2 linked regions of the Homo sapiens genome follow. The protein of the gene in region 2 purifies or fractionates together with the protein of the main gene of each other region. This does not show direct contact. Each region holds a gene or a part of one and is shown on either strand. Other genes may lie near its edges.

Region 1 (3,500 bases), on a different chromosome or scaffold from region 2:
CTAGGACCAAACATGAAAAAAATATATTTCAGAGAGTTAGATGTAAATGTGATTTAAAAACCCTTCAAAGCTCTAAAACTTGATGAGAGTTTTATTTATTTATTTATTGAGATAGAGTCTCGCTCTGTCACTCAGGCTGGAGTGCAGTGGCGTGATCTTCACTCACTGCAACCTCTGCCTCCTGGGTTTAAATGATTCTCCTGCCTCAGCCTCCCAAGTAGCTGGGACTACAGGCGCATGCCACCACCCCCAGCTAATTTTTGTATTTTTAGTAGAGACGGGGTTTCACCATAATGGCCAGGCTGGTCTCGAACTCCTGACTTCAGGTGATCTGCCCGCCTCGGCCTCCCAAAGTGGTGGGATTACAGGAGTGAGCCACCACGCCTGGCCTGAAACTTAAAAAAAATTTAACAAAAAATCCATCCACTGTTATCTATTTTTACAGCTTACTCTGGCTAGTTCTCGAAGTTCATCCACAATTAAGCGATCAACTCTAGATGGGTTGGAAGTCAGCCTTGGAACTGGAGTGTTGTTAGTACTGGATACTTTTTTTCCAGGATAATTCTTGGCAAGGGCTAATTCAGTCTGTAAAAAATTACATACTTTTTAGATGTAGAATTTTCTAAATATGATTCGACCATGAATAATAGTTTTCGTAAGCCTAATAAATAGAGTATTACCACTTTAAATGAAAATTCTGTTTTGGTATCAAAAGACAACAAATGTAAACCACAATACCACAGTATTTTTCTATCTTTTTTTTTTCAGATGGAGTCTCACTCTATTGCCCAGGCTGGAGTGCAGTGGTGCAGTCTCGGCTCACTGTAACCTCCGTTTCCCGGGTTCAAGCGATTCTCCTGCCTCAGCCTCCCGCGTAGCTGGGATTACAGGTGCCTGCCACCACGCCTGGCTAATTTTTTGTATTTTTAGTAGAGACTGGGTTTCACCATGTTGGCCAGGCTGGTCTCCAACTCCTGACCTTGTGATCTGCCCACCTTGGCCTCCCAAAGTGCTGGGATTACAGGCGTGAGCCACCGCGCCCAGCTATCGTCTTAATACAAATAAAATACCTGAGTATACCAACAGGTTAACACTACAAAATTCAAAGAAATAAACTTGTAACAACTAAGGGGGTAAAAAATCTACTTCAGGGCAAGTCAACTTAGAATAACAATAACTTTAAAATGTCAAGCATTTTTCATCTTCATTTATTTAAGCTTCCCATTGGCCAACCCCATCCATTTTTAGTTTTTAAGTAACCCACTTAATTCCTTACAGTAATGAACTTACAGCAAATCCTGGACATTATAGAATTCAGCTCAGAAATAAGGCAAGTTAGCCGGGTGCAGTGGCTCACATCTGTAATGCCAACACTTGGGACATCAAGGTGGGAGGATGGCTTGAGGCCAGGGGTTTGAGACCACCGTGGGGAACATAGTGAAACCTAATGTCTACAAAAAATTAAAATTAGCCAGGCATGGTGGCATGTGCCTGTAGTACTAGCTACTCAGGAGGAGGAAGGATTGCTTGAGCCCAGGAGTTTGGTTACAGTAAACTATGATTCTGCCACTGTACTCCAGCCTGGGCAACAGAGCGAGACTCTGTCTCTTTAAAACAACAACAAATAAAGCAAAAAGAAATAAGGCAAGTACTCTTACACTACACTAAGGTAAACAGAATGAAGACAGGCAAAAGGAACATACTGTTATTCCTAAGTGGTTAACTTTGTGTTACCTTTTTTCTCTCTTTTTCTAATGCTCTCCATTGTTCACAGCACTCTTCTAGACGAATATGAAGTTCACTGGCTGGTCCACTACGGGTTTTAATTGGTCTTTGAAATCCAAAAGTTGGCATGAGACCAGAAAAAGAATTATCACCATACATCATATTAAAATAAGGGTACAAATGGCTTAAGTCATCATAAGAAAGTAAGTCATAGGAATCCAACAGTGGAACAACTGAATGGCCAAATGGGTGGGTGGATCTTAGGGGAAACCCATTTGAACCAAGTTGTTGAAAACACTGATTATGCCTTAAATCTCCCATCATATAATTATTAGAAAAGCATGACACTTGTGTGCGATTCACACGGCTATTGTCTCCACCTCTCGTTCTGTGGCTATTAGAATGACCCTGTGACTCCAGTAGATCTTGGTATGTATTTTGTGATAAGCCATCTAAATGCTTTGGACCTTCCTCAGGATCATAATGTCCACTCTGGGGCTTGGCTTGAAAATTATGTTTGTTTACATTTTCAATTATCCCATACTTCTGAGCTGAATAGTTATCACAAAATCCATTTGGCTGCTTTATTTTTTTATCCGTAACCAATTTGAAGAGATTTTCTTCTCCAGGCTTTGTTAGTCCTTCTATGTGATTGACAGATTGGATTCTTTCTGCACCACTGTAACTAAAATCAAAACTAGAAAATGCTGAAGGGTTTTCTTGGCAATATTTCTGAAATAAATTGCTATTTGGGGTTAAGTTTGTGGATGATAGTTGGGGGAAATCTGAAGAATGGTTAGAACCTTTTGAAGCTGCACTTAAATGACTATTTAATTTCATCAAGTTACCTTGATTTCGATAAGGAATAGGAGTGTTATTTTTTGTTTGAACATTCATCCAAGTTGGTCTGTTTAAATTGATACCTCCTGAAGATGTTGCTGAGTTTGATAATAAATTCACTGATTTAAAATACTCAGAATGTGGGGGATCAGGTTTAGCAAACTGTTGCTTTTCTGTGACGTTAGCAAAATCATTAGCGGGACAAGCTGTGTGAGGTTTTAGTCCATATTCTGATGTTAAGCCAAAATCAGCAGTGAATACTGCTTCCTTTGCAAACTGTTTCTCTGTCAGATGTGGCGTAGTTTTTGGAAATGTGAAATTCTGCTGATCAGGGATTGTCTCCTCCATTTTTTTCTGATTCGCTGGCTTAACCTGAAATAACTTTGTGTAGGTGTCTGCTTCTACAGTTGGTGTTTCAGGTGTGCCATTGGCTAATTTTTTGCTATCTTGGACACTAAAATTTGAACATTTATTAAGCTTAGCCTTATTAGGATGAACATACTCTGGGTATCTACAATAATCTACATTTTCATTGTATCTATTAAATTGAGAAAGAAACATCTCTGCCCTTTTTTGCTGTAGTGGTGCTTCAAGACCTTTAGTACATATTCTGTCTCTTCCATAATGGTAGATATCAACTCCTGATTCTTTCATGATATCAGACAGACCAGTTTGGGGTGTAAAACAGTTTTTGATAAGTGGATATTCTTGGAATGTTGTCTTAGCTGTATCATTTGTCTGAATATTGTGACAGTTAGAATGATCACTTCGTGAGGGGTACATCCATTGTTCTTCAAGATCTAAACCAGTAAATCCATGATGAAGTTCATCTATTTTTTGTTGTGGTGTGAGATTACTGTTACGCAGGTATTGCTTTTCCATTGCTGACACAGATTCATCACTATAAAAAGCTTGCTGAGAGATGACTGTATCTA
Region 2 (3,500 bases):
TAGGAACTAACCTAATGGATTAACTAACATGATTACCTGAGGTTCTGAGGGTAACGACTCCAACATCTTTTTTGGAGACACAAACACTTAACATTGCCCTATGAATTTCTGCAGTTCTTCAAAGGGCAGAGTGAATAATAACCACAGCAATTTCAAGACACACAGGCTTCCATTGTGAGATGGCTTGTTTAAAGAAACTATTAATTCCCTACACTCTTCTGATCACTCTGTTGTTCACATTCATTTTAGGATTTCTCTTCCAAATCACTTCTGGTGCTTTCCTTCTTGCTTCTTTCATTTCCTTCGGTGTTGTAGTTCTATTATGTTTTTATTCCGTCAGCAATTTCTTAAATTTCTCTTTTCAACCTTAAGCAGTTTTTCTGAAATTATAAAATTTACTGTGAACATTTCAAACATTTCCACATGTGCATGAAGTTAAAGTGAACTCTGACATTCCCCTCTACCCCATCCCTTCCCTCCCTCTACACCCAAGGAGCAAATACCATTTAACTGGGTGAGGATCCTTCCAGACACATTTTTTGTCTGCTTACAAATATTAAGATTTCTAATTCGTCTTTGCATGACCGACTTGCCGAGTTAATTTACCGTCCACATTTCCTCTGTGACATTTACTGATTGAAGTGCACCAACTGTGAATGGTCATAACTAGTCCCACCCCCACAATCATTTCTCACAGATTAAGCAGCATAAGAGCATAGTGCTTTTTATCTAATTTGTTCATTAAATGTAACAAAGTTACAAAAACATGAACATGAAAACGTTTTACCTCTGCCGGGCACGGTGGCTCACGCCTGTAATCGCAGCACTTTGGGAGGCAGAGGCGGGTGGACTACATGAGGTCAAGAGTTCAAGACCAGCCTGGCCAACATGGTGAAACCCCGTCTCTACTAAAAATACAAAAAAACTAGCCGGGCATGGTGGTGGGCGCCTGTAATCCCAGCTACTCGGGAGGCTGAGGCAGGAGAATCCCTTGAACTCGGGAGGCAGAAGTTGCAGTGAGCTGAGATGGCGCCACTGCACTCCAGCCTGGGCAACAAGAGTGAAACTCTGTCTCAAAAACAAAACAAAAAACATGTTTTACCTCAATCATAAACTGTGGAAAACATACAGAAGTTCACAACTTTTACTGTAAGTTCAAAACTTCTACTGACTTAAAAACGGGTGCTAAACAAGTTTAAGTCAATATATTGCACCTGTTCTCATGTGTTTTTCCTATATTAGACAGTAAGTTCCTTCCCTGCTCAAGGGCAGGACCCATAGCCCAGCCATCCACTGCATCCCACTCTTCTAAGTATGACCACAACAGTGAGTGGCCATGGAGCTAAATGACAGGTGTCTCATGAGATTCTTGCCTATCACAGCAGCAAGTTCATAGTAGATCCTTGTACCAAACACTTCAGTGAAGACTGTATGGAAAGAGCTGGAAGCTAAGAAAAACCTAGGGTGTCCTTTATCCCATGGAAAACACTCCTGCTTTGGGACAAACTGGGGCCTAGGTCCTCAGGCCTGGAAAGAACCCTTTGATGACAGCCAATATGTTTCTAGAGGGGTTTCTCCAACTCTCTTGAACCCAGGGCCTTAGGTACAAGTACAGCCACAGCTACAATACATGCAGCCTTCCAGAGAGAGGATGCAGGAGGGTGGGGGTCCTCAAGAGTCAACTCTCCTTCCCACAGGAGAGGAAACTGTGCACTCTGTCCTGAAAAAACAAAAACAGAGAACTCTTAACTCACCAAGAATTCTATTTATAATATGTGCAAAAGGACCACAGTAAAAGGTACATGCCCACTATGAAAACATGAATATATATGCAGTGCTTTAAAAGGTTGTGAGGAAAGCTCAAAGTGAGAAAATGATAATTTTCTATTTTTCACACGTTTTAACCTAACATTATCTCATGTAGCTTGAAAACTAAAAGAAAATCTCACAAAAGGAATTTCAAATTACCAGATTCAGGCTAAGTACAGTGGCTCACACCTGTAATCCCAGCTTTTTGGCAGGCTGAGGTGGGTGGATCACCTGAGGTCAGGAGTTCGAGACCAGCCTGGGCAACATGGCAAAACCCTGTCTCTACTAAAAATACAAAAATTAGCTGGGCATGGTAGTACATGCCTGTAATCCCAGCTTCTTGGGAGGCTGAGGCAGGAGAATCGCTTGAACCCGGGAGGCAGAGGTTGCAATGAGCCAAGATCGCACTCCTGCACTCCAGCCTAGGCAGCGGAGTGAGACTCCATCTCAAAACACAACAAAACTAATTACCATATTCAGTGCTAGCACCAAGGGACTAAGGTCATGGTGGTTAACTATGAAACTCACGTAAACCTGCCCACGTATATCCTGATTCACCTGTTAAAATGCTAGGCACTTTATTTTGTAGCAAAACTTCACGCAAATGTTTATAAGATCAGACAATGAGATTCCTCTCCATGTTGTTTTCTTGGGTTTACTGGGTTTACCATGGATTCATCTTAGTTGTGTGTTTTATTTTGCCTGTTTTAGCTATAATTCAATCCCTAGAAAAATGCTGAGGGGGACCTAAAAATACCCCTCTACACAGGATTAAAGAATCTGATAAACACCAGAAAGAATTAGGACTCATCTGAGAAGGCCAAGCAAGTACAAAGTGATCACTATGTTGCCAGAGAAAATAAAGACAACAAACAGACAGAATGGAATCAGGAAAATGTGAGAGTGCTGAGCATTTGAAACCATATTAGGCTAGGTGTGGTGGCTCACACCTGTAATCCCAACACTTTAGGAGGCTAAGCAGGATGATGACTTGAGTCTAGCAGTTTGAGACAAATCTGGGGAACACAGCAAGACCTCATCTATACAAAAAAATTTAAGGCTGGGTGCAGTGACTCACACCTGTAATCCCAGAACTTTGGGAGGCCAAGGCAGGTGGACCACTTGAAGCCAGGAGTTCCAGACCAGCCCAGCCAACATGGTAAAACCTTGTCTCTACTAAAATTACAAACATTAGCCAGGCGTAGTGGTGTATGCCTGTATCCCAAGCTACTCAGAAACTTGAGGCAAGAGGACCATTTGAGCCCAGGAGTTCGAGGTTACAGGGAACTATGATCATGCCACTGCACTCTAGCCTGGGTGACAGAGCAAGTCCCTGTCTCTTAAAAAATAATGAGTTTATTAATAAAAATCAAAGCCTTAAACAGTCTTAGGTATTGCACATTTTAATGTGGTGCACATTTTAATGTGGCCATCTGTACATGGGTTCTTCTCACCCTAGATATAAAAAAGAAGTGTCACATGAAGATGTTCTCAGTATTCTAATTTCTACTAAATTCAAGAATCTCATGACACAAGCCTTCATATTTCTCACAAAGAATTACTCTCCTCATGGATATCCTCCCAGAGATGTCTGGATCAAAGGCAACTTCCAAGAAATGCCTGAAGAGCTGCCCTCACTGTCTAACTCTGACAAAGGATGGCAGTGAATGTATGTTAAAAAAAAAAAAAAG

What was found. The genes of interacting proteins can lie anywhere in the genome.
Region 1: the proteins of ZNF550 (region 2) and MEIOC purify together in Homo sapiens (affinity purification with mass spectrometry; 2 studies listed by BioGRID and IntAct, with this or other methods). This does not show direct contact.

What each region holds. Positions count from the first base shown.
Region 1 is NC_000017.11:44,666,468-44,669,967, reverse strand, and holds part of MEIOC (meiosis-specific coiled-coil domain-containing protein MEIOC), read right to left. Parts: coding exon 1,735-3,500; intron 588-1,734; coding exon of another isoform or gene 586-587; coding exon 451-585; intron 1-450. UniProt on the Homo sapiens protein: Is required for meiosis completion in both male and female germ cells. Confers stability to numerous meiotic mRNAs in gonads allowing proper initiation and progression into meiosis prophase I.
Region 2 is NC_000019.10:57,542,864-57,546,363, forward strand, and holds part of ZNF550 (zinc finger protein 550), read right to left. Parts: 3' UTR 381-3,500; coding exon of another isoform or gene 337-380; 3' UTR 1-336. UniProt on the Homo sapiens protein: May be involved in transcriptional regulation.